Linked DNA regions of Homo sapiens: regions 2, 3, 4, 5 and 6 are each linked to region 1. The links come from fine-mapping of genetic effects on gene expression. A gene starts in region 1. Each other region holds a variant in brackets. All regions are shown on one strand. Distances are from middle to middle. Region 1 holds the start of LPL (lipoprotein lipase). Region 2 has its middle 110 kb from the start of SLC18A1. Region 3 has its middle 61 kb from the start of LPL. Region 4 overlaps LOC105379311 (a long non-coding RNA gene). Region 5 has its middle 36 kb from the start of LPL. Region 6 has its middle 110 kb from the start of LPL.

Evidence for each region.
Region 2: its variant is fine-mapped to the expression of LPL in whole blood (INTERVAL, PIP above 0.99).
Region 3: its variant is fine-mapped to the expression of LPL in whole blood (INTERVAL, PIP above 0.99). The same link has a PIP of 0.9 or more in blood mononuclear cells and monocytes.
Region 4: its variant is fine-mapped to the expression of LPL in lung (TOPMed, PIP above 0.99). The same link has a PIP of 0.9 or more in fibroblasts.
Region 5: its variant is fine-mapped to the expression of LPL in whole blood (TOPMed, PIP above 0.99). The same link has a PIP of 0.9 or more in blood mononuclear cells, macrophages, monocytes and monocytes after LPS.
Region 6: its variant is fine-mapped to the expression of LPL in blood mononuclear cells (TOPMed, PIP above 0.99). The same link has a PIP of 0.9 or more in T cells and whole blood.

Annotation. Positions count from the first base shown.
Region 1 is chr8:19,937,556-19,941,645 of GRCh38, reverse strand. LPL (lipoprotein lipase) reads right to left here and starts at 2,393. Exons shown (of 10, transcript NM_000237.3): 1 at 2,118-2,393. The coding sequence starts at 2,205.
Region 2 is chr8:20,073,985-20,078,074 of GRCh38, reverse strand. No RefSeq gene overlaps it. Among named protein-coding and RNA genes, the nearest start is that of SLC18A1, 110 kb to the left of the region's middle. The variant G/C (reference allele first, on the strand shown) is at 2,497.
Region 3 is chr8:19,876,371-19,880,460 of GRCh38, reverse strand. No RefSeq gene overlaps it. Among named protein-coding and RNA genes, the nearest start is that of LPL, 61 kb to the left of the region's middle. The variant A/G (reference allele first, on the strand shown) is at 2,348.
Region 4 is chr8:20,117,248-20,121,337 of GRCh38, reverse strand. LOC105379311 (a long non-coding RNA gene) reads right to left here. Exons shown (of 4, transcript NR_188140.1): 2 at 2,560-3,703; 3 at 660-715. Among named protein-coding and RNA genes, the nearest start is that of SLC18A1, 64 kb to the left of the region's middle. The variant G/C (reference allele first, on the strand shown) is at 1,538.
Region 5 is chr8:19,973,578-19,977,667 of GRCh38, reverse strand. No RefSeq gene overlaps it. Among named protein-coding and RNA genes, the nearest start is that of LPL, 36 kb to the right of the region's middle. RefSeq lists a silencer at 1,623-1,823. The variant A/T (reference allele first, on the strand shown) is at 1,987.
Region 6 is chr8:20,045,893-20,049,982 of GRCh38, reverse strand. No RefSeq gene overlaps it. Among named protein-coding and RNA genes, the nearest start is that of LPL, 110 kb to the right of the region's middle. The variant G/C (reference allele first, on the strand shown) is at 1,590.

The DNA of each region.
Region 1 (4,090 bases):
AGGGGATGGGAGGGCATCGTTTCCAGTCTACTTGGAAATAATCCTTCCTTAATATATTTACAGCTAGGAAAAGCATGTGTTGGCTACAACTCAATTAAACTAATTAATCACATAAGTGTCCACTTAAAGAGGCAAGAGTTACACCAGGCTCAGAGAACATTGGCCTCATCCAAACTCATTGCAGAGTTGAGGAACCTAAACCCAGAGAGGTGACACTGACTCCCAAGAATTTAGGATCTTGAACCTGTAAGGGAGCCTAGGAAAAACTTGAATGTGATGACATATTTCGGTGCTTGTTTTGCAATGAAAATGACGTTATTCTATGGTGTGCTTTCTGAAATAAGAATTTGGAGTTGGCTCCTACCATCTTCTTGTCAGCATTAAGCAGTACGAAGGGAAACATACGAAACATACCCCACCTAAGATGTTGAAGACTTTCTCATCAACTCTCCAGTGTTTTCAAACTGATCCAATAGAAAAGATACTTTTTTTCTTATCCAATTTTGCTTTGATGGAATCTATACTTAGTGTTTGTTTTGTTTTGTTTTAATTTTATGAGACAGGGTCTCACTGTCACCCAGGATGAAGTGCAGTGGGGCAATCACAGCTCACTGCAGTCTACTGAAACTCCCTGGCTCAAGTGATCTCTCAGCCTGCTGACTATCTGGGACCACAGGCACAGGCCACCACGCCCGGCTAATTTTTGTATTTTTTTTTTATAGAGACGGTGTCTCCCTATGTTGCCCAGGCTGATTTCGAACTTCTGGGCTCAAGCTGTCTTCCGGCCTCGGCCTCCCGAAGTGCTGGGACTACATGGGTGAGCCACTGCTCCCTGCCAACTTTTTGTTTTTTAACCTAACAAAAATGTTTCACAAATTAATGCCAAAATAAAACAAACGTTTAGCGGCCATCAAAGCTATGGAGAGACTCTATTATAACTTGAACCGCTGGGGACGTGCCGCCTGAGAGCACATCCAAGCGACACCGCCCTAATTGCAATTCCAGCATGGAAGAAAAAAGGAAATGTTGTCCCGTGTTATGAATGGCTTCAGCTGCTCTCTATGCTGCTGTTGCATGTTTACTGAATCGAGGTTCGAATTAAGCAGGCTGCCTCCATTGCGGACAGGTCTGAGACATTCTCATTTGGCCCCGAACGCCTGGACCCCAGCGAGCGGGCGGTTCCCTGGCGGCGGTGACCACCGTTGTGCTCGCTGCCTCCACGCGGCGCCCGTCAACCCCACGTGCTCGCAGCCGCGCGGCGGGGCCGGGCGCCCGGAGCTGACCTCAGCCCCCAGGACAGAAAGGGTGGCCAAACGCAGACCTGGCAACCCCCCGAGTCGGCGACCACAGATTGCTGGTGGCTGCGCCACGGTTTCGGGAGGGTCAGCCCCTCGCTGGGTTCTCAGGGCACTAAGAAAAGAGGGGCATGCGAGCCTGGAAGCTGGAGAGAGTCCGGGGCTCCCCAGAGCGGGTGGGACGCCGCGTCCCCAGGACTCCGCGCCACGCGTACTTTCTCCACCCCGACACCCACTGCCACTCCCACAGCGGAGCGAGGGGCCCCGCCGAGGGCGAGCGTACCCCGTGCGGCTGAGATGCCCGGAACGCCTCCCCGCGCCCCGGCTTCCCCAGAAGGGGCCACAGTCGGCCCGCGAGTCCCCGGGCGGGGGCTGAGCCGCAGTGCCAACCAAGGCGAGGTCACCTTGGCCCGCGCGCCTTTCATTCCAGGGCCCCTCCGGCAGAGAGGTGACTGCAGGTCACCGCCAGCCGGGCCCTTACTCCCCGCCTCCGCCGTCCCGGCCCCCACACCCCGGAACCTCCCCGGCGGAGCCTGCGAGCCCGGGAACGCGGTCCCAGCCAGAGTGGAAGGGATAGCGCGGGAACCCGGCAGAGAGAAAAAGCGGGAACTGGGCGCCGCCGCTTCACGATCGGGAGGAGATTCCCTCCCGGCCCCTCCTGGATCCCACTCCGGGGACCGTTTCGGGGCTAGAGCCCAGGCTGGGAGAGTCCCTGGGCGCATCCACCGCCCCTTCCAACTTCCTTCTTCTCATCCTCAGTTCGGGTGGCAGTGGCCACCCGCCGGGTCTGCAGGTGGAGGGGAGTTTGCGCGCAAAACTTACGGTCGGCGGCGGCCACCCCTCCGCGGGAGGCGGTCAGACTCTGGAGCCACACGGCCAGAGTCAGCACGAGCAGGGCTTTGCTCTCCATCTCGGGGCGCGTCCCTCTGGAGGAGCTGCAAGGCGCGGACCGACTGATGAGCCGGCTGAGCCGGAGGCTGGAGAGGGCTGGAGCCGCGGTTTGGCGCTGAGCAAGTCGCCCTTTAAAGGGGATGGCAGGGCAGCTAGAAGTGGGCAGCTTTCCCTTGAGGAGGAGGAAGAGGGGGAATCGAGTCTGACACTGTTTTCACGCCAAGGCTGCTTATGTGACTGGAAATATGCAAATAAACCTCATCACCTATTGGCTATAAAATCATAAGTTGGGGGGAGGGACCTAAATTCACTTCTAAACGTTTGAGCAAACAGTAATGAGGATCAACCCTGCCAACGAGAAGAGGGGGAAAGGGCAGACGGAAAAATTTGCTTTGTTAGGCTCCTGTTCGCTTAGCTTAAGGGGTTCCACTCTACCCGGGGGCCCCCTGTCTAAGCACCAAACACAGGTTTACATCGATTCACGTTAAATACTCAACAATCACCTGTTTTCCAAGGAGGGAAAGTTTAGCTGTTAAATTACATTTGATCGGCACTTTAATACACCTCTCTTTTGACGAATCCTGTTTGTCACTTGCAGTCCTCCCTCACTCACCCCGCACCCCATCCCCACCCCCGCAAAGTCAATGTAGGGATAGAGGGACACACATTGCGTCCCAGCTTGTGCTTGTACAATCTGGTGTTTTAACATTGGCAAGATGGATCAGCTTATGTGATGGAGAAAAGCCTACTTGCTCTAACTAGTTTCTAATTTTTGTCTCATGCAAATTATTCTCAATCCTCAAACTCATCAAGGAATGCAAGGATAATATTTTATGTTCAGAGGCAGAACATCGAGGTCAAATAATCTAAAGCCGTATTGAGTTATGATAAGTGAAAGAAGATAGTCGCAAAAGACACATATTGTATGATTCCATTTAAAGTGTCCACAAATAGACAAATCCATAGAGACCAAAAGTAGATCAGTGCTTGCCTGGGGCTGGGTAATTAATAGGGGAAGGGAAGAATAGAGATTTGGGGGTAGTTGATGACAATGTTCTAGATTACATTATGCTGATGCTGCACAACTCTGTAAATATACTAAAAGCAACAGAATTATGCACTTTCAATGGGAGAATTATATAGTGTGTAAATTATAGGTCAGTAAAGCTATTTTTAAATGGATAAGAGGCATGCACATAAAATAAGAAAAAAATAACATTAGATACTATGCTTTTCTGCCAAAATGCTTGGAATACTTTTAAATATCTTTTTAAATATAAGGGATTTACATTAGCCAGGAAGGACAATGAAGTGTATCCCCAACCCCCTCTCAGTTTATGGCTGAGAAACTGGCTCATCAAATCAGAACCTCCAATCTACTATATTTATGGTCTGAATATTTTTAATGTCCCCTTTTATTCATCCCACCCTCCGTCACACACACACAAACATACAATGCACAATTGTAGGTTAGAACAATGAAATGCTTTTTAAAAAACTGGGCTCACTTTTTAAGTTTTTCTCAAAAAATGAAATAAAAGTTGATAATACCCAAATATTTCAAAGGTCTCTATTCTGCATAACAATTCTATCTTTAAGTTGATGCATTCCGTGCCACAACACAACACACCGTCTTGTATTGCAATTATTACACAATATACTGTGCACGTTCACTCTAACCTACAAAGTATGTAGAGAATCTTGAAACCTGCCAAAAATTAAACTTCGCAGAACTTTAGAAGTGGCAGAACAGACCATGCAAGGGATGAATAACTATGATATGGCCGTCCTCCAAAAATCATGTAGTAAACTCTAATTTTAAAAAATGACAGAAGATGAATACAATTGCATTGGATGTGTTCATGGTGTGAATGGCATATAAACAGACGTGCAGAACTGCCTGC
Region 2 (4,090 bases), 140 kb before region 1:
CTGCAGACCAACAGCTCTGATGCTGACATGTTGGTTTGCTGCAGGATGATTTAGACAGGAGAGTAACATCATCTGATCACTTTGGCCAAGTTTCACCAGATGGACTATGTTGTCTTCACTACCTGCCTTCTGTGTTCTCTTGTCAATGAAGGGTAAATCATCCTGGTTAACAAAACTATGCTCCTGGGTTTTTGGAATAATCATTACAAACAAGAACAATTTGTTGAGCTGTTTAAATGCATTATCTCATTTTATCATCCCAGAAAAAACTGATGTATATATTATTATTCCCATTTTGGAGATGAAAATATTGAGTCTCAGGCAGCTTAAGTAATTTGCTCAAAATTATATAACTCATTAGTAGAAGGAATGAGATTTGAAGCAGGACTATTTCATTCTAAAGCCTAGTCTTTAGTATGATGATGTATTGCTTCTGCAGAGTGTATTCTGAATCCTCTAGATAATTTCATATGGTGAAAATATTCAAGTCCTGGCCGGGTGCGGTGGCTCACACCTATAATCCCAGCAATTTGGGAGGCCGAAGTGGGCGGATCACCTGAGGTCAGCAGTTCAAGACCAGCCTAGCCAACATGGTGAAACCCCATCTTTACTAAAAATACAAAAATTAGCCGTGCCCGTAATCCCAGCTACTCGGGAGGCTGAGGCAGGAGAATCGCTTAAACCTGGGAATATATATATATATATATATATATATATATATATATATATATACTCAAGTTCTAACATCGTTATATTAACCAATTTGAGCAAATAATCTACAAACACCTGTTTTCAGATGGCAGAGAAGTGGCCTCTTTTCCATTCCCTCTCTATTCCCAGCAGGTCAGAGACTGACTTTGACCAGATCACAGTGAGGTAACTGTGTCCTTGCATAAAGAACTGACCCAGAAGCAAGCCATTTGAGAATAATTCAGTGGCACATTCTAGGCCAAGAGAAAATAACTCAAGATAAGAATATAACCCCCAAAGGGGAATAGATTTCTTGTTGGCAGAACTCTATATGCTTCCAGTTCTGCAGCAATAGCAGATTTCTCCAAGTTACTGAGTTCAGAGGATATATTTTGTTTAAACAACAACAAAGAAAGCTCAAGAGAGAGCTTGTTTTTTCTTTTGCAATAAGCTACATGTATTTTTTGAATGCCTGTTAAACATTCCGTTGTCTGGCATGGGGCTCTCCACATTTTCTTTCCCCTGTGGGGCTCTTACAACCCATCTCACTTCACCCACAGCCTTCCCTGAAATATGGCTCATTTCACTAGTAGGTCAGCAAATATGGCAAATTGGCAAATTGTCAACTCCAAATTGACCTTTCATTTCTCAATGCTGTTTGCTGGGCAACAAGCAAGGGGAATTAAAACTTCAGTCCTGGAGTCTCAAAAGGAATTGGAGCAAAAATCAAGATTGATAGCAAAGTGCTGAAACAGACATTTTATTTGGTGGAGCCATTTCAACCGAAGTGCAAAAGGCATCCTGGTAAGGAGATGAGCTTGTGTCTTTGAACAGCTTTTTCCCTTTCATACATCTGATATTTTTTTGAGTGCCTACCAATTTTCTAGACTTTATTTTTGGCTTAGGATCCAAAACATTATAATCACTGCCCTCCAGGAGCTTACATTCTGATGGGGGAGGACAAAACATAAACATAGGAAAAAGTAAATTAAATTGTGCATTAGACAGTGATGTGTTTGGGATAAAAAAAAAATAAATAGGGAAGGGTTTAGAAAATGCTAGGAGGTGAGCATTTTAAATAGTGTGTTGTCAGGGAAATCTTCACTGAGAACTTGATGTTTGAATAAAACCCAAAGGAGGGAAGGTAGCAAGCCAAGCTGATGTTCTGCAGGACAGTGTGCCAAGCAGAGAGAAGAGCCACTCACAAGGCCCTTGGGGACAGGTACTGGAGGAATGCAAAGGGGCCAGTGTGAGTGGAGTGGATGAGGCTAGCAAGAGGAGACAGATACTGCAGGGTCTTGTAGGCCATTGATAGGTCTCAGCACCCTGCTAAAACCATGACCACTGCGTCATGTGTAACCCTGACATTTGCAAAGCATTCATTTTCAGTGTTTGCTTATATCCTTGATCAAACTTGGTTCAACCCCGAGAGGAAGAGAAGCAGACCACTTCTCATTGTCTCCACTTTAGAGATAAACCAGACGCCAAGAATACTGAATAAATGACCAACTTCTCAGAGGGTGATTTGACCTCCCGTCTCTTAATTTCTAGACTGTTGCTTTTTCTACTGCATCTTCATTGTATTTCAGGCCATTTGTGCTTTGAAAATGGAGAGCTGATAAAAACGAGGAAGCTCAAGCCTTATCCTCAGCAATTATCTTGGATCATTTTGATTCAAGGGCTCTCTCATTTCTTGGTTTATTTATCTCACTATCCACAGCTACAAAGCAATGGTGCAGGGTACACACAGCCCAGCTCTACTGGGCACCATTCGTACAGACTGCAGTGTGAATTGTGCCCCTTGGT[G/C]TTGAGCCAAGTGCAGGCACTGCTGTGGTGTACTGTCTTTCCTCATCTTGACTTTGTCTCTTATTTCTAGCCTCACATTTGAATTCTCTGTAGCAGAATTTCATCTTCCCAGTTTTGAGTTTTGGCAGTCCCTAGATAGAACATGGTTTGCACCCACACTTTCGCAAATAATTGACCTAGACCCAACCCAGTCTTGAGACATCTTCTGGCATTAACTGCCTAGAAGGTATCTCAGTTGTTCCTGTTCCCTCCTGTCCCTCATGCCTAACAAGATTTGGGACAGTTTTGAAACCACTTTTGCAAAAATTTTAAAAATGTGAAAATTATGACAGTAAAAGAGATCTGATCTAACCAATCTCCATCTTGCCTTTAACTTCCAGACTGTCCTTGGCCATTCCTAGGCTTGGGTCTAGCTAACTTTGGGAGAAATTTAGTTTATCATTTAAATGATAACAGCCCTTCCCCAAAAGTAAACCATCTTTCTAAAACTAATGAAAGACTACCAGGTTAGGAGGATGAGAGGAGGCTGAATTCTGCTAAGATGTAGGCAGAATAAACTATTACCTATAAACAAGGTAATGAACCATTACCGGCCATTATTCCAGAGGTCACAAGATTTGCAAATTCTCCGATTACTCCTGTAGATAACATCGCTATTGTGGAACCTAACAAGATTGGCCTTTTGAGATGTCCTTTCAGATTTTTGCATTTCTAACTACCAGATGGCCCACCCGGACCCAGGACTCTGCTCCTGTGGCTCCTACCCAGAAGGGACTCTGTACAAGGACCACTTTCCACACCGCTGTGATTGCATCCAATCAAGCAGTACCCATTCCCTCAGCCCCCCGCCCACCAAACTATTCTTAAAAAACCCTAGCCTCTGAATTCTCAGGGAGATTGATTTGGGTAATAACTTCATCTCCCACATGGCATGGCTGGTCTTGTGTCAATTAAACTTCCTTATTGCAGTGTCACGGTTGCAATGAATTGGTTTTGTCTGGACAGTGGGCAGGAAAAACCCATGGAGCAATTACAGTTTCCTTCTATATCTAACTATCCACCCTTGAGGAAATCAGCTCATAATCTTAGGTAGTTGGTATTTATCTCTGATTCTTGTGTTTATATATTTCAAATCCTCCCAAACCTTGGGCTGCAAGTTTTTTCTGTATGCTGTCTTTGTGGGGTCTTTGGCAGTTTTTTCACAAATGACTAAGCTTGAGCCAATTTGATGAATGGAGTCTTTAGAAACGGATTCTCGTTTGACACACAGATCTGCTAAGCTAATAAACTTTGTTATGAGCTGAGCAAATTTCCTCTTCTGGAATCTTCCCTGTGGTGACCGGCCTGTGCTGGGGAGGAAATCAGCTGCTTTCTCAAGGGCCTTTGTGTCCCCAGCCCCTGCTGCAAGTTACAGAGGGGTGACCTCTACCATGTACTTTCCCACGCCCCACCTCCTGACTCTGGGGTGTGCGAGTGAGTGTGAGAATCCTTGAAGTTACATAACAGAGAGCTCAGGCAACAGACTGCTTCTGCTTCCTCCATCACCAGGAGAGCTTACTTCTGACTTTGGATCCCAATTCTTCACTAAGGATGC
Region 3 (4,090 bases), 61 kb after region 1:
TGGAAAATACTGAAAGAGAGAGGACCCTAGAACTGAAGAGAGAGGTGGAATAAAAATATGAAGAGCCTCAAAAGAGGAGAAAAGCAACTGAGAGAAAAAGTGACAAGTGGCAGGAGTAAAAAAGTCTGGCTGCATGGGTGGGGTCAGTAGGAAGTCCTCTAATGATTGGAATCAAGGATATTGAAAGATCCTGACCCCAAACTTTCTTCCAGTTGATATTACAAGTCTGGAACCATTAAAAAATGGACTCTGTTGAATCTCCTGACACCTTCCCACAGCCTCCATTTACTCCTAACTTCCCATTGGCAATGTCTCTTCCTCGTTATGAATGGCTCTCTTATGGTGAGGTTCTTTTCAACTGAACATTCCTGTCTTAGTATTGGCTGCTGTAACCCAATAGCATAACTTGATGGCTTACACAACAAGCATCTATTTATCACAGTTCTGGAGTCTAAGATCAAGATCAAGATGCCAGCAGATTCGGTGTCTGATGAGGGTCCGCTTCATGGCTTGTAGGTGACCAGCTTCTCTCTGTATTCTCATGTGGCAGAAAGAGGATGAGTGAGCTCTCTGGGGGTTCCTTTTATAACGGTGCTGATCCCATTCATGAGGGCTACACCCTCATGACCTAAGCACCTTTCAAAGGCCCCACCTCCTAATATCATACCTTGAGGGGGTTAGCATTTCAGCATTTAAATTCTATGGGGACACAAACATTCAGGTCATCGCAACTACTGAGAAATTTAATACCTGTCTTTATCCTCTTGGCAAATACATGTAAAAGATGCTTATTTGGGAAAGACAGAAGCATCTTTGGCATGTTGGCAAGGGTAGGGGTGGAGGAGAGAAGCTGCAGAGCTGAGATGAGAAACAGGGAAGAACCTTGAAGGCAGCAGGACATTTTCACTAAAGAGCGAACTGCAATGCATTTGCCTCAGTGCCAGGAACCCCAGAGAAGAAAAGATGATACTCAAGAAGTGTCTGCTTAGCAGAAGAATTAGAGGCAAAGCCGTGTGCTCCCTGTGTTGGTTCCTGCTCTGCTCTTCATGTGAGCATTCCAGATCCTGAGCCTTGAGGCCCTAGAATATTCACCACGAAACTTACAGTCGAAGCTCAAATGGTGCCAACACTGTAAATATAGCGTTCACATTCTCCTTCACTGTGAAGACAAATGAGGGTAATGAATCTAGGCGTTCTCTTCTCTCAGAATATTTGGCATTTGAAAGCACTTCACATTTCTATCATTTACTTGTGTGTGTAGACACCTACTTCCAAAACAAAAACACAGTTGGCCCTTGAACAACATGCAGGTTAGGGGTACCAATCCCCCACCTAGTCAAAAATCCATGTATAACTTTTGACTCCCCCAAAACTTAAATACTAACAGCCTACTGTTGACCAGAAGCCTTACCAATAACATGTTCTGTATGTTACACGTATTATATACTGTATTCTTCCAGTAAGTGAGCTAGAGAAAAGAAAACGTTATTAAGAAAATCTTAAGGAAGAGAAAAAGTATTCACTATTTGTTAAGTGAAAGTGGATCATCATAAAGGCCTTCACCATCACTGGAGTAGGCTGAGGAGGAGGAGGAAGAGGAGGGGTTGATCTTGCTGTCTCAGGTGTGGCAAAAGTGGAAGAAAATTCACCTATAGGTGGAACCACATGGTTCAAACCAGTGTGGCTCTAGGGTTAACTGTAATGATGACATATTAAAGCCATCACAAATTTTAAAGTAAGTCATCCGTTATTGTGCTTTATTAATAAACAAGAATCTCCTCTTCAATTGTCCTTCCCTCCTTCCATCTCTCTTTACCTCTTTTTCTTTCTTCTTTCCTTCTTTTCTTCTTCCTACCTTTCTTTCTTCCTTTTTTTTTGAGATGGAGTCTCACTCTGTCACCCGGGCTGGAGTGCGGTGGCCCGATCTTGGCTCACTGTAAGCTCCACCACCCAGGTTCACGCCATTCTCCTGCCTCAGCCTCCCAAGTAGCTTGGACTACAGGAGCCAGCCACCACACCTGGCTAATTTTTTGTATTTTTAGTAGAGATGGGGTTTCACTGTGTTAGCCAGGATGGTCTCGATCTCCTGACCTCGTGATCCACCCGCCTGGGCCTCCCAGAGTGCTGGGATTACAGGCATAAGCCACAGCGCCCAGCCTACCTTCCTTTCTTTGTTTCATCCCTCCTTCTCCCCTCCCTTCCTTTCATTCTTTCTTCCTTTGATTTAGTTGGAGTTCAGAGAAAATCCTAGTCTTGTCAAAATTAACTTTGATTCTTGATAGGATAATAAGTCTCCTCTAGAAAATAAAAGTTTACTAAGCAGAAACAACTTTGAAAGCAACTACCC[A/G]TTTTTCAATGCAATCTACTTTCTGTTTTAGAGAAGTTCTTTTTCAAAATTAAGTGTCCTGCTAACTAAGCTCTCAGGCTATTAGTTGAAGTGAATGAAATTCCAAAGATTTTACTTTGGCTTTTGTGTGGTTTATGCTTTCTAAATTTCCTTCACAAAGAATAGCCTGTAAAATTGTCTAGAAAGTGATCCCTTTGGGGAAATATTTACTCTTGAGTATTTTTATTCTAAAAACAAGAGCTTGATGTTTAATGAACAGTTTTGCTTAAGTGGAACCATAGAAACTCTTACAGGGCTGTGTTTATGTTCTCTGAGATTCGTTGAATTTTCTAGAAGAAGGAGGTCTTAGAGAAAAATCAGGATTATGGTATGTGATCAGTGCTATGCCCTATATTTCCTATAAAGCCAGTGTGCATTGCATGCCATTATTTTCTCTAACTGAACCACTTAATGTGTATTTCTATGTAGGGCCATGCAAACCTGCCTCTTCTCAGGTTACGTACTTAATTTTCTCAATTTTAGAAGCCAGCAAAGTGGAAGGAATAGGCATCTGGCATCAGACAGAACTGGATTGTCATCCAGTGTCTGCCATGACTGGCTATGTGACCTTGAGAAATATTTTGAAACTGGCTGAGACCCAGTTTCTGTCTATAAAATCAGGGTAATAAAATCCCTCAGGCTTCTTGGGAAGAGTAAGTGAGATAAATGCAGTCAATATTGAAAAAAGGAAGAATATAAAATATGAAGTGAGACGTACTATAAAATTAGAAGACCAAAAGAGAAGGAACTAACATTCTTAGATTCAAATAGCTCAGATGTTCTTAAGGAAGCTTGAGAAATTGTTTAATTATTATGCTTATTTCTCTTACAAGTTTTCAGAAATGAAAATGACAACAAAATTAGAAAACATCTCTAAAATCTTGAATTATGTTGGAATAGTCAAAAGCTTCAACCAGAATTTTAAAGAGTAGTCATTTGTTATTTATGGAATATCTTATTTTGGGTTCCCCTGAATGCAGAGCTTGAGGCAAGGGTTTGAGTACAAGTATGTTAGTTTGGAGGTGCGGTGGCAGAATTCTAAAGATTATCCTTCAAAATTTCCCATTCTAATTTCTGGAACAGTGAATATGGTTGAGATAGCATGATGGGGATTATGTTAACATTATATTGCCAAAGGGACTTTGCAGATGTGATTGAGTTGCTAATCAGCTGTCTTTGAGTTAATCAAAAAGGAGATTGTCTAGGTAGGCCTAATCTAAGAAATGAGCCCTTTAACAGCAGAAAGTTTTCTCCAGTTGATTGCAAAAGGGGAAGACAGATTCAAAACCCAGGAAGGAACTGACATGCCATGACAGGCTTTGGAAATGGAGGGAGACAGGCAGAAAGGAGCTGAGAATGACCCCCTGGCTGACAGTCAGGAAGCAGGCACCTCAGTCCCACCACTGCAAGAAACTGGATTCTGCTAACAAACTGAACAATCTTGGACGCAGATTCTTCCCCAAAGCCTCCAGAGAAGTGCCCAGCCTGGTGGAGACTTGATCTCAGCCTTGCACTATTCTAACCTGAGAACCCAGTCAATCCCAGTCAGACCTCTGACCTACAGAACAGGTAATGCATCTGATACAGGTAATAAATAGGTGGTAATCTGTAATGCAGCAATAAAACTCTGATACTGGAGGTGATCTCAGGAAGCAGGAGTAAGGGAGTGGAGAGTGAAGAGGGAAAGAGGAAAGCTAATATAAG
Region 4 (4,090 bases), 180 kb before region 1:
GCCAGTTTTATTATTATTATTTATTATTTATTTATGTTTTTTGAGACAGAGTTTCACTCTTGTTGCCTAGCCTGGAATGCAATGGCGGGATCTCGACTCACTGCAACCTCTGCCTCCTGGGTTCAAGCAATTCTCTTGCCTCAGCCTCCCCAGTAGGTGGGATTACAGGCATGTGTCACCACGCCCGGCTAATTTTGTATTTTCAGTAGAGATAGGGTTTCTTTATGTTGGACAGGCTGGTCTCGAACGCCTGACCTTAGGAGATCCACCTGCCTCAGCCTCCCAAAGTGCTGGGATTACAGGCATGAGCCACTGCACCCAGCCCAGTTTTATTATTTTTAGAATGGTGAGTGTTGAATGCTTTGTGGACTGAGGAGAAGCAAACAATAAACAGGGTGAGATTGAATACAGGTAAACATATTTACAATTTAAACACCCAAGAGAGTGATTTTGGTCTGAGTTCCAGGCACTGCTGGTGAGCTCCTGAGGGTTACTTTCCAGGTGGCAGCACCCCTGAAATCCCCCAGGTGGGCCACCCCCTCCTTCCCCCTGCCTGAACAGACAACTGGGTTCTGTCATGCCTTAGAGGAGGGGGTCGTGTGAGGCTTTGATTTCTGGGAAAGCCTACAAGGAGAAGTCAGACAGACCTGTATACCAACCTCAGTCCTGCAAATAGTCACTGTAGGCAAGATGACCTCTGAGCCTCAGGTTTCCCCTGGAGAAAATGAGGGTAATACAATCTATTATCTATTTTGCCATGAGGCTGGATGACATACGTATGTAAAGGCCTCCCTGCAATGCTGCCTCTGAAGTAAAGGCCTCCCTGCAATGCTGCCTCTGATGTGGCAAGCAAATTCAAGAGTCCTTATTTTCACACTCATGCCCAAGAGGAGATTCCTGACCAGGAGAGTTCTTTCTTTCCAGAGGTTATGGGCAGCCCTGCATGTGTTTGCTTGGTTTTTTGTTGTTGTTGTTGTTGTTGCTGTTGTTTGTTTGTTTGAGACAGAGTTTTGCTGTTGTCGCCCAGGCTGGAGTGCAGTGGTGTGATCTCAGCTTACTGCAACCTCTGCCTCCCAGGTTCAAGTGATTCTCTTGCCTCAGCCTCTCGAGTAGCTGGGATTACAGGCACCAGCTACCACGCCCGGCTATTTTTTGTAGTTTTAGTAAAGACGGGGTTTCACCATGTGGGTCAGGCTGGTTTCGAACTCCTGACCTCAGGTGATCTGCCCGCCTTGGCCTCCCAAAGTGCTGGGATTACAGGCGTGAGCCACTGCTCCTGGCACTTGTTTTTGTGTTTCTGTGTGTCTGTGGCTGTCCGCTGTGCTCATCAATATCTGGGCTCCTCCCAGCTGGGACAGGGAGCCTCTGTTTACTGCCCTTTGCCTGATGTTTACTACAATGTTGGACAGTTTGAGCTCTCAAACACCCAGCAGATGAACTCCCTCATTCAACAGATTTAGGAGGGAGCTGGGGAGACCAGACACAATAAAAACAGCATATTTCCCCCTAGAAGATTCCTGGCCAGCCTTCTTTCTTA[G/C]AAAGCCCTCCCTGGTGAGTCAGTGCATTGGCCCGCCCTGACCTCCCAGAAGATTGGACAGAAGATTATCTTGGCACAGGCACGGCAGACAATTTCTCTGCCTGCACAGATTTCCTGGTACCCAGCAATATTTGGCTAACCTGAACTTTTATTTTTCTAACTGAAACACCATACTGTTGATTTTAGGAACATTGCTTTTACCTTCTCTAAGAGGACAAGGTCTCTAAATCTTTCCCTATTGAAGAATTTGATTTTGGTTCATCCAGGTCATTGTGGCTAGGGCTAAGGGTGTAGCGAGGTCTGAGCTTCCAAAATGCTGGTTATGCAGGGAGCAGATGGGGAGGGAGATGAGTTAGCAGGGCTCTCTCCTGCTCTGAGAGTCATCTCTGAGCCCCCCAACCCCCATAGCACCTGGCCAGTGGCTTGGACAGAGAAGGTGCTCAGAAAATGTTGGATAAGCAAGTGAATACGTGGGGATATGAATGGATAGATTTGACTTGTTTACTCAAGAGGCAAAGAAGAACATGAAGGAGCAATGGAAATGGGCTTGGAAGGAGTGATACTGGTAGGTCACCATGTTGAGGACAGGACAGGGTGAATACTGGCTGGCATGTGTGTTTCGGTGTTGTTGTATTAGTCCATTCTTGCACTGTTATAAAGAAATACCTGAGACTGGGTAATTTATAAATAAAAGAGGTTGAATTGGCTTACTCTATTGTAGGCTATACAGGAAGCATGGCTGGGGAGGCCTCAGGAAACTTACAATCATGGTGGAAGGTGAAGGGGAAGCAGGCACGTCTTACATGGCCAGAGCAGGGGGAAGAGAGAGAAGGGGGAGGTGCTACACCCTTTTAAACAACCGGATCTCATGAGAACTCACTCACTATCATGAGAACAGGAAAGGGGAAATCTGCCCCCCTGATCCAATCATCTCCCACCAGGGCCCTTCTCCAACTTTGGAGATTACGATTCGACATGAGATTTAGGTGGGGACACAAATCCAAACCATAACAAGTGTATACCTAAAGCTCAGTAGTCTTGAAGCTGGCACATCTAGCCTTGTGAAATTCCACATGCCTGTATCACTCTCACTCCGTGCCCATTGATAGGATATAGGAAAAGTGGATTTTAAAATATTGAGAAAACAATTCCTAGAGAGAGTTCTTGCAGGGCCTATCTCTGCTTGAAGGGGCCAAGTGAGGAATGAGCCCAACACAATCACCGATCAGGCTTGCTCAGGTGGGGCGTGTAAACCCAGCTTTCCAGACTTGGTGTTGAGAACCAAGGCGTCCTGCTGATATTTTCTGTGAATCTATTGAATTGGCCATGGCGGAGGTTAAATAGAGCAAGTATAGTGTTAAAGGAAAAGGCTGTTGTGATTCAGTTCTGGGTTGTGGCTTGTTTTTTTGAGCCACTTCTGGGCTCAGCTTCATAGGTTGGGCTGCATACTTGGTGGCTGGATCAGTGGCGGTCACGGGGAAGCTGTGTCACTCAGCCAAGGACATTGGCTGTGGGTGATCTGTAGCAGGTGGCAGCAACCTGGTTTCAGAGCTTAAGATGATCCTTCAAACTGTCCCCAGCAAGTTCGCTGCACTCCCAGCACCATTAGATAAGGCAGTGTCCTTGATTTCAGGGAACTCACCTCTGATTGTATTCTTCTATAGCCTGGAGTAATTGAGACTTTTCAAAGCAGCCTGGAAAAACCTTACATCCTGGAGGAAAGAACAGGGCCCACTTTCTCTCCTCTTTCCTCCTAGAGTCTTAGGAATATTTAACCTTCAAGTAGGTAGAGATATTACTGGGGCCTCTTCACTCTGACTTTCTCAGCTGCCGATTCATTCTCTTGGTGCAGAAATTCGTTTTTACTATTATGGGTTGCTTTAGTACTAACACATAGCAACTTGCTTTGAGTATGGAAAAATATGCCAATAAATGCATGCAGACATGTCTGAGCACGTAGGGAAAATGTCGGTAGACCCAAAGGCTTTTATCATCACGAGCCATTGGGTCTTGAGGATCCTGAGTTCTCTTCTCCAGAGCCATTACTGAAGTATACTGAATCTCCAGGACAGAAGCTCCATGAGCCTCAATAAGAAAGATCAGGAACTCCCTTTCTTCCCCAGCAATTTGGGGGAGCAGCAGCTTCTCCCATTCAAGAGGCATTTCCTGGAGAGAGGTAGATTGATGGAAAACAGTCAAGTATACACATAAATATGAAACACATTTAGAGCATTTGACCCAATGTCTAGTTCTAGTTCTACAGCAGGGAGAGTAAAGAATTTAGTCAGCCCTCACTGTGGGAGAAGCCCTCATTGATCTAATCAGGGAAAATGGGAGGAGGCCCATTTGTAAGAGACACTAAAGGAGAAGATTAGGAAGTCATCAGGAGGGGTTTCAGTGGACTACGCCTTGGCCTCTGTATAATGAAACCAGTATCCTTAGAGCTTCAGGAGTGAAACTCCCCACAGTTGCAATAGAATAACTTATATTAAGTCCTGCTTTACAGTAAATAACACCTGAGTGAGATTCCAGGGAAGAGGTTTAGAGTTATCA
Region 5 (4,090 bases), 36 kb before region 1:
TTCATTACATCCCATGGGCAACTTTGTAGATCATTTTTATTTATTTCATCAGATTGTTTACATAGATGATCATGTATGGAAACAAAGACAGTTATACCTCTTCCTTTCCAATATGGATGCCTTTTATTTTTTTATCTTGTCTTGTTGCACCGAATGGAACCTCCAGTATAGTATTGAATAGGTCTGGTAAGGCAACTATCTTAGCTTTTTTCCTGATCTTAGGAAAATAATTTAATCTTTTACCATTAAATATAGTTTTATATGTAGGTTTTTTGTGGATGGCCTTCATCAGGTTGAGGACATATCCTTCTATTCCTAATTTTCTGAGAGTTTTTTTTATCATGAATAAATATCAAATTTTGACAAATCCATCTTTATCTTCATTTTTTATGGTTGCAAAATAATCATAACTGACATATATGTGTTGTTCACTAATTTGCTATTACAAGCAAAATTGTAATGACTGAGACTATGGTAATATCCTTTTGCAGATGTGTATCTTCAAGGTAAATTCCCAAGAGCAGAACCATTAGAAAAGGATATGTATTTATAATTTTGAAAGGTATTACCAATTGTCTTCTACAAGGATTGCACCAATATACATTACTATCTGCAATGTAAGACTTATTTTCCTTTAGAGTTGCAAACAAGGTGTATTTTTAAACTTTGAGATTTTCTGAATCTAAATTGGTAAAAAGTGGCATTTTCATGTATTATTAAATTCTATCTCTTATTATGCATGACAATGACTACCTTTCATATGTTTAAGGACCACTTTATGTTTAGATTTGTGTTCCATCTTTTGCTCTTTTTTCCTTTGTGTGTGTGTGTGTGTGTGTGTGTGTGATTTTATTGATTTTTAGAAACTCACAATTACTATTTTTTGAGACAGAGTTTTTGCTCCTGTTGCGTAGGCTGGAGTGCAATGGCGTGATCTTGACTCACCACAACCTCCGCCTCCTGGGTTCAAGGGATTCTCTTCCCTCAGCCTCCCGAGTAGCTAGGATTACAGGCATTCACCACCACGCCCAGCTAATTTTGTATTTTTAGTAGAGATGGGGTTTCTTCACATTGGTCAGGCTGGTCTCGAACTCTCGACTTCAGGTGATCTGCCCGCCTCGGCCTCCCAAAGTGCTGGGATTACAGGCGTGAGCTACCGCGTTCAGCCAAAACTTACTTTTTACTTTTTATATATCAATTTTGGGGGGATCAATTTGTTATCTTTTGACTTTGCTTATATTTCAGCTTATCTTAAATGGGTTACATTTTCTTCCATTAATTTTTCTGCTGAGCTTTTAGGCATGTGACTTAGGAGAAAATGTGAGAAACACTATAGTTACGTCAATTATTTTGACAAATCACTTTTTGGAAAGATATTCACACGTGGTGAGCCTTCTAAAAATGGTGTGCTGATTTCTGTTACTTTTTTTCATAGAAATTATACAATATAACTTGAGCATTTCTTCTTTTACTGGTGTGAATAAAATGTACCACCCTCACTTCCTCACACCCTACATCCTACCCTTTAATGAACCAGTAAACATCAAGGAGCAGCGTGATGCTGTTTGTTGTACATGAAGTTAAAATGTGCCCTTGGACTTGAGGTCACCTTGAAATAATGAGTGACCTGGTCTCAGAAGGCTCCATACCTCTGAAGGGACACTTATCATTGTCATCTTAGTCAAATCACATGTGGCGGCAGAGGAATCTTACGGCCTCATTTAACAACCCAGGCTCACCTCTGACCTGGGGACATCTAAAAGCCTAATTTTCTAGCCCTTACATCGTTATCAAAATGCTGAGTTCACAGTGTTACTCAGGCACATCAACGAGCTCTTTATTTAACTAGCACTGTCATTGCCCTCAATGTGTGACACAAACTCACATGATTTTGGCCCATACAATGGAAAAATAAGGTTGGTTTTTACTTTAAAATCAATATTAAGTTATTAAAATGATAGCATATCAAGACATGAGTATCTTCCT[A/T]CCTTCTTTCTAACTTCTGTTTTCTGTTGCTTTTTTTAAAAAAACCTGACTCAAAATCACCCGCTCTTTCCTAATGATCTATTTTGGTCAATATCTCAGTTCCTTTTTGTCTCCTGGTTGTTTTCTCCTTCTTAGGACATATAGGAAAATCTCTTTCTAGAACAAATTGTGTTCCTTTTCGTTACATCCTTGAGAAACTCAGTTTAATGAATCAAAGAAGGTATTTTTAGAGCATCCTACATGTTCTGTTCCCAGGAAGAATGAGTGTACTGGTCAATTTTGATTACACCCTCTGCTTGTAGAAACCTACAGAAGTGGAGACATGGAGAGAAAAATGAGAAGTTTCATTCATTTATGCTGCTTGTTGGAGTTTAAAAGTACTTATTCATGACAGTCTTTATTCATTTATGTATGCATTTGTTCAACAAATTATTAAATACACTTATTTTTATACTTTGAATTTTTAAAAGAAAAGTAGATGGATAATATAATCGTTATTGCCAAAGGAACTGAGAAGGCAAGACAAACAGTGATGCAAATCAATTTCTGGGCAACAGAATGCTGGGGGAAATGTAGGGCCAAAATAATATTGCAACAGCATTTTTCTAGCTTCTTCGTCCCCCTTCTTTATATCCAGGTATCTTCAGCATCTTTAAATCATTCATAACAAACTTGGGTGAGAAACAGAGCAGTGAGTAAAGTCAGGGTTAGCATGTACAGTATAGTGCCTGTGCATGAATTACCAAAATTTGCCCACTCTGGGCAGATGAATTACAAAAAGACAAGTGTATGAAGACCTTTGTCACTCCTAGCTTTTTTTTTTTTTTTTTTTTTTTTTTTTTTTTGAGACGGAGTTTCGCTCTGTCGCCCAGGCTGGAGTGCAGTGGCGCGATCTCGACTCACTGCAAGCTCCGCCTCCCGGGTTCACGCCATTCTCCTGCCTCAGCCTCCCGTGTAGCTGGGACTACAGGCGCGCGCCACCATGCCCGGCTAATTTTTGTATTTTTAGTAGAGACGGGGTTTCACCGTGTTAGCCAGGATGGTCTCGATCTCCTGACCTCGTGATCCGCCCGTCTCGGCCTCCCAAAGTGCTGGGATTACAGGCGTGAGCCACCGCGCCCGGCCCACTCCTAGCTTTTCTATATACTCCCATAAGTCTGCTCAAATATGCCACAGGCTGCATGACACTAGCACCTTGCAAAATTGCCCGCACATCGTAGGTACTTGATAAAAATTTGCATTGACCTTACATTTTCCTTCCTTTTTCCATCCGGCTGTTACTAATATCACTTGTCACAACCCACCACAAACGAGTTGCCGAAGCACAGGGGGTGTCAAGGTTCCCTGACCTGTGGAGTCCGCACTGAAGTCAGTGCAGCTCACAAAAGCCACCATAGACCCCAGCACATTAGAAGCTTGCTGGGAAAATGTTGGACCACCATGCCCCACACCATGGATGCCAAATCTAGCAATTCACAGATTATCATAGTTGCTTCTCCCTAAACCTCAGGCAACTCCCATAGGCTGGGCTGCCAGACAATAGAAACAGACACATGGTGGAAGTCAAAGTTGCCTCTCCTCTCTGTCTTGGGCCTCCATCCTTGAGTCACTTTTATGTGTTTTGCTTCTCTTTTCTCTTGGGAAAAATTTTTTCTGCCAATGTATTTCTGGTGCACCATCTCCAAGTGCCCCAGATATGTTCAAACAGGCTTAAAACTCAAAGGGGGGAAAAATCAACAACTCCAACTTTGAAGTCACACATTGGTTTAAAAGCCAACTCACCCACTTACTAGCTTTGATTTCTAAATTAATTCATTTCCCTGCATCTCGTTATATTCATCAATAAAGAGAAGATAAAAATACCTATTTCAGGAGGCTATTGTGAGAATGAAACAAATGTTAACCAAGCACTTCACACAGTGCCTGGCACATAGTTGATGCAGAAAAACTGGTAGTAATTATTTTTAGTAACACAACATCGGAGCAAGTACATGCAACACTTGTGCTGACAGGTAGATCGTAGTGGTAACATAGCAATGGAAGAAAAAAAGATTTCAGAAGGGAGCTCAGAAGAGTGAAAGTAGTCATTAAAGGTACTTAGAAA
Region 6 (4,090 bases), 110 kb before region 1:
GTCATTTTCATACTGCTCCAGGAAGTAAATTTCATCTAGAGCAAATTCCTATTCTGAGTTTTTGGGTCTGTTGGCTATTTTATTAAATGTCTTTGGTTTTGTTGCATAACAGGCTCATTTTGAAGGGGGATTTTTTTTTAAATCTCTCTCTTGCTTCACATGCACCCTTGGCTTATCTTTTTCTGACCAATTGTATGGTGGTCTCCATCTGGCCCTGCAGACTTCCAACTAAGAAGCAGAGTCTAAATTGTAGTTTGAAGTTCATTCTTACCCTAGACTAATACTGGGGGTACCAAAGAGAGTGTCACAGAACAAATCCTGTAACCACCCAATGGGTTCACCTTGCCCACTGGCTAGACAGAGCTGATTTATCAAGACAGGGGAATTGCAATAGAGAAAGAGTAATTCACACAGAGCCGGCTGTGTGGGAGACTGGAGTTTTATTATTACTCATATCAGTCTCCCCACACATTCGAAGAACAGAGTTTTTAAGGATAAATTTCTGGGGTATTGTTGGGAGTAAATTCTATTTTAAATTCTGAGTAAATGTTACGCTATCATTCCACCAGCAATCACCTAAGGCAAGTTAAGAAGCACTGGTGAAACTTAATAGCCACATACAATCGAAGTGTGAATGAAATGAATAAATATACAAATAAACTATGTAGCCATACCTACACATACATCATGCACTCGTTCTGTTACTGAAATGCCAGGGTTTCAGTCTAGGTTCTGTTACTTGCTGCACAGAAAGCCAATCACTGTGGCAATGAGTATTGCCAGGGAAGGAGGCTTTAATATGCTGCGGTCAAGGAGATGGGAGATCAGTCTCAAATTCTTCTCTCGGACCCACTAAAATCAATGTTTTATATAGCAGGGAAGGAATGTAATGATATGCAGGAAAACAGGAATGGGGGTGGGGCGGGTGGTAAGGAAGAGGAATTGGTCAATAGGAAGCAGGTGGTCAGGCAGTCGTGGTGGGTGAAGGGTCTGGCTTCTCATTGTCCAGATGTGATAATCTGGTAAGTTTCAGTTCCCTGATACTATCTGGGAGTCCTGATGGTTAGTTTCCTGAGAAAGGAACTCAGATAAGTGTAACTTTCTCAAGTTTTAAGACTGGGAGGGTCAATTTCTATGTTTATTCAAAAGAAACCATAAGCATCAGTTCTATGGGATAATTGAAGTGGTTTCCTTTCCACATTAACGTGTGTGTATGCATGTATGTGTGAACATCTCACAGTAACAGCTCACTGTAGCCTCAGCCTCCTGGGCTCAAGGCAGTGATTGCTTGAGGCTAAGAGTTCGAGACCAGCTTGGGCAACACAGTGAAACCCCATATCTTTAAAACAAAACAAAACAAAACAAAACAAAACAAAACAAAACATTAGCCGGAGGCTGGTGTGGTGGTGTGCTCCTGTAGTCACAGCTACTCAGGAAGCTGAGGAAGGAGGATCACTTGAGCCCACGGACTTAAGTTTGCAGTATGCTAGGATTGTGCTACTGCACTCCAGTCTGGGTGACAGAGCAAGCCCCCGTCTCCAAAATTTAAAATACAATATAAAAAAATGTTCATATCTGATGCACCCTGG[G/C]AAATTTGCAACATTCTTGAGGTAAGGTAAATGTTATCTCTGTTTAGTAAATGAAGAAACTAAAGGTAGAAGGTGCTTTGCAAAGCTCTTTTACAAGTGAACCTGTAGTAATCTGGTTTGAACCCAATGAACGTCTCATTGAGGCTGAAATAATAAATTTTGACATTTCTATTTCCATTCTGAGTTTATAAGTTCTTGTTACTAGGATGAAGGCTTTTTTTTTTTTTCCATTTTCGACTCCTTTTGTGAAATAAGGATAAACTAAATATGCATACAGTCAGTCATAGCAGGGAAACACTATGATAATCCAAATTGAAACACATCAGATAATCCAAATTGAAGGAATGTTTTACAAAATAACTGGCCAGGACTCCTCAAGTGTCAAAGTCATTAAAGAAAAGGAAAGACTAAGAATTGTCATAGAGGAGATGAAAGAGACACGGCAACTAGATAGGATGTGAAATCTTGGATTGGATCATAAACCAGAAAAAGCACATTGGTGGGGAAACTAGTGAAACTCAATGTCTGTAGGTTAGTTAATAGTATTGTATTAGTGTTAATTTCCTGGTTTTGATAATGGTACTGTGGTTATAGATGATGTTAACATTAGGGAAAACTATGTGAAGGGTAATTGGAAACTTTCTGTACTATTTTTGCAAATTTTCTGTAAATTTAAAATTATTTAAAACAAAAAATTAAAAGAAAACAAAAATACATTAGGTAAAATGGAAAGCAAACTTTCTTGCCTCATCCCTGAAGCCTTATTCTACCCCTTCACTTTGGGTTAGGCTGAGGCTGAAGTGTAGGAGGAGGAGTGGGTGGTTGTCAGACACAGAATAGAGGGTTATTGCATAGATTACTCACTAGTTGTTTAAATTGTGCTTTTATATGTCAATGAGGCCATTTTATATAGTGTATGCAATTGTAGTCAAAATAGCCCAAGTGGCCAAAGTAGAGATATCAACTTGGTCTCATCAAAATGTTGCATTTTAGACTCCAACTGTGTGTTTTTAAAAAAATATCACAAGGAACACTCAAAAATGTTCAAAGCGGTTATGTCTTGCTCAGACAATTGTGGGAGAATTTTAAAAAATCTTTATGTTTTCAGTAATTTTCAATTAAATCACAATTAGTATATTTCACATATATAGTGAAATTCAAATAATTTTTTTTAAATTTAACACAATTAGACATATGCCATATGATCATGGTGACAGACTGAATGTGCCAATGTTTATCCCATCCAATATGCTCTTCTTATAACGTGACAGTGGAATTTCTCCATCAGGAAGTCTATGTTACGTCCTCTTGAACATGGGCAAAACTGTCACTGTCTCAATCGGTAAAATACAGAGCATTGACACTGTATGACTCCTGAGAATAGATGATAAAAAGTACAGCTTTATCCTGGCTCTCTTTCCTTAAGAACACTTGCCTATGGGATCCAGCTATCACATTGTGAGCAAATCCAGGCCACATGCAGAAGTCATGTGTGGGTGTCCAGCCGGCAGCCCCAGGTAGGCCCAAATGAAAGAGCAGAAGTATTCAGATGATTTCAGCTCCCAATCTTCAAATATTTCAGCTAAGGCACAGATGAACTGAGATAAGCTGTCATTTCTCTACCCCATCTGAATTCCTTTTGCAAAGAAATCATTAAAATAAGTGATTGTTGTTGTTTTAAGCCACAACATCTTGGAGTAATTTGTTATTCACAGTACTTAATAAAAATATTAAAAACAAAATTATCAAAGTATCCAGCAATTCTACTTCTGTGTCTGTACCCCAAACAAGTAAAAGCAGGAATGTGAAGAGACATTTGTACACCCATTTTTGTGGCAGCATTGTTCACAAGAGCTAAAACATGGAAGCAACCCAGGTGTCCATGAATGGATGGGCAGAGAGTGGGATGTGCATACAGTGGAATATTGTTCAGTCTTTAAAAGGAAGGACATTCACACATATGATAAAACATGGATGAATCTTGAGAACATTATGCTGAGTGAAACAAGACAGTCACAGAGACAAATACTGTATGAAATACTTAGAGTGGTCAAAATCATGGAGATAGAAAATAGAATGGTGGTTGCCAGGAGCTGGTGGGAGGGGGAGAATCAGGAGTTATTGTTTAATGTGTATAGATTTTCAGTTTTACAAGATGAAAGGAGTTCTGGAGATGAATAGTGGTGAGATATGGAACATTTCCGTCATCTGAAAAAATTCCCTCTTGCCATTTTGTAGCTAATACCCTTCCCCCAAACTCCAGCCCTTCATAATCAAGGATAGTATCTCTGTCCTCAATGATTTTTCTTTTCTCAGATGTCATATAAGTGAAACCATACACTATATACCTGCTGTGTCTGGCTTCTTTCACTTATCGTAATGCTGGTGAGAATCATCCATGTTGCTGCATGTACCATACTTTGTCCCTTTTGATTGTTGACTTGTATTCTATTGTCTGTGCCACAGTTTATGTATATATTCCTCACTTGATGGACATATAG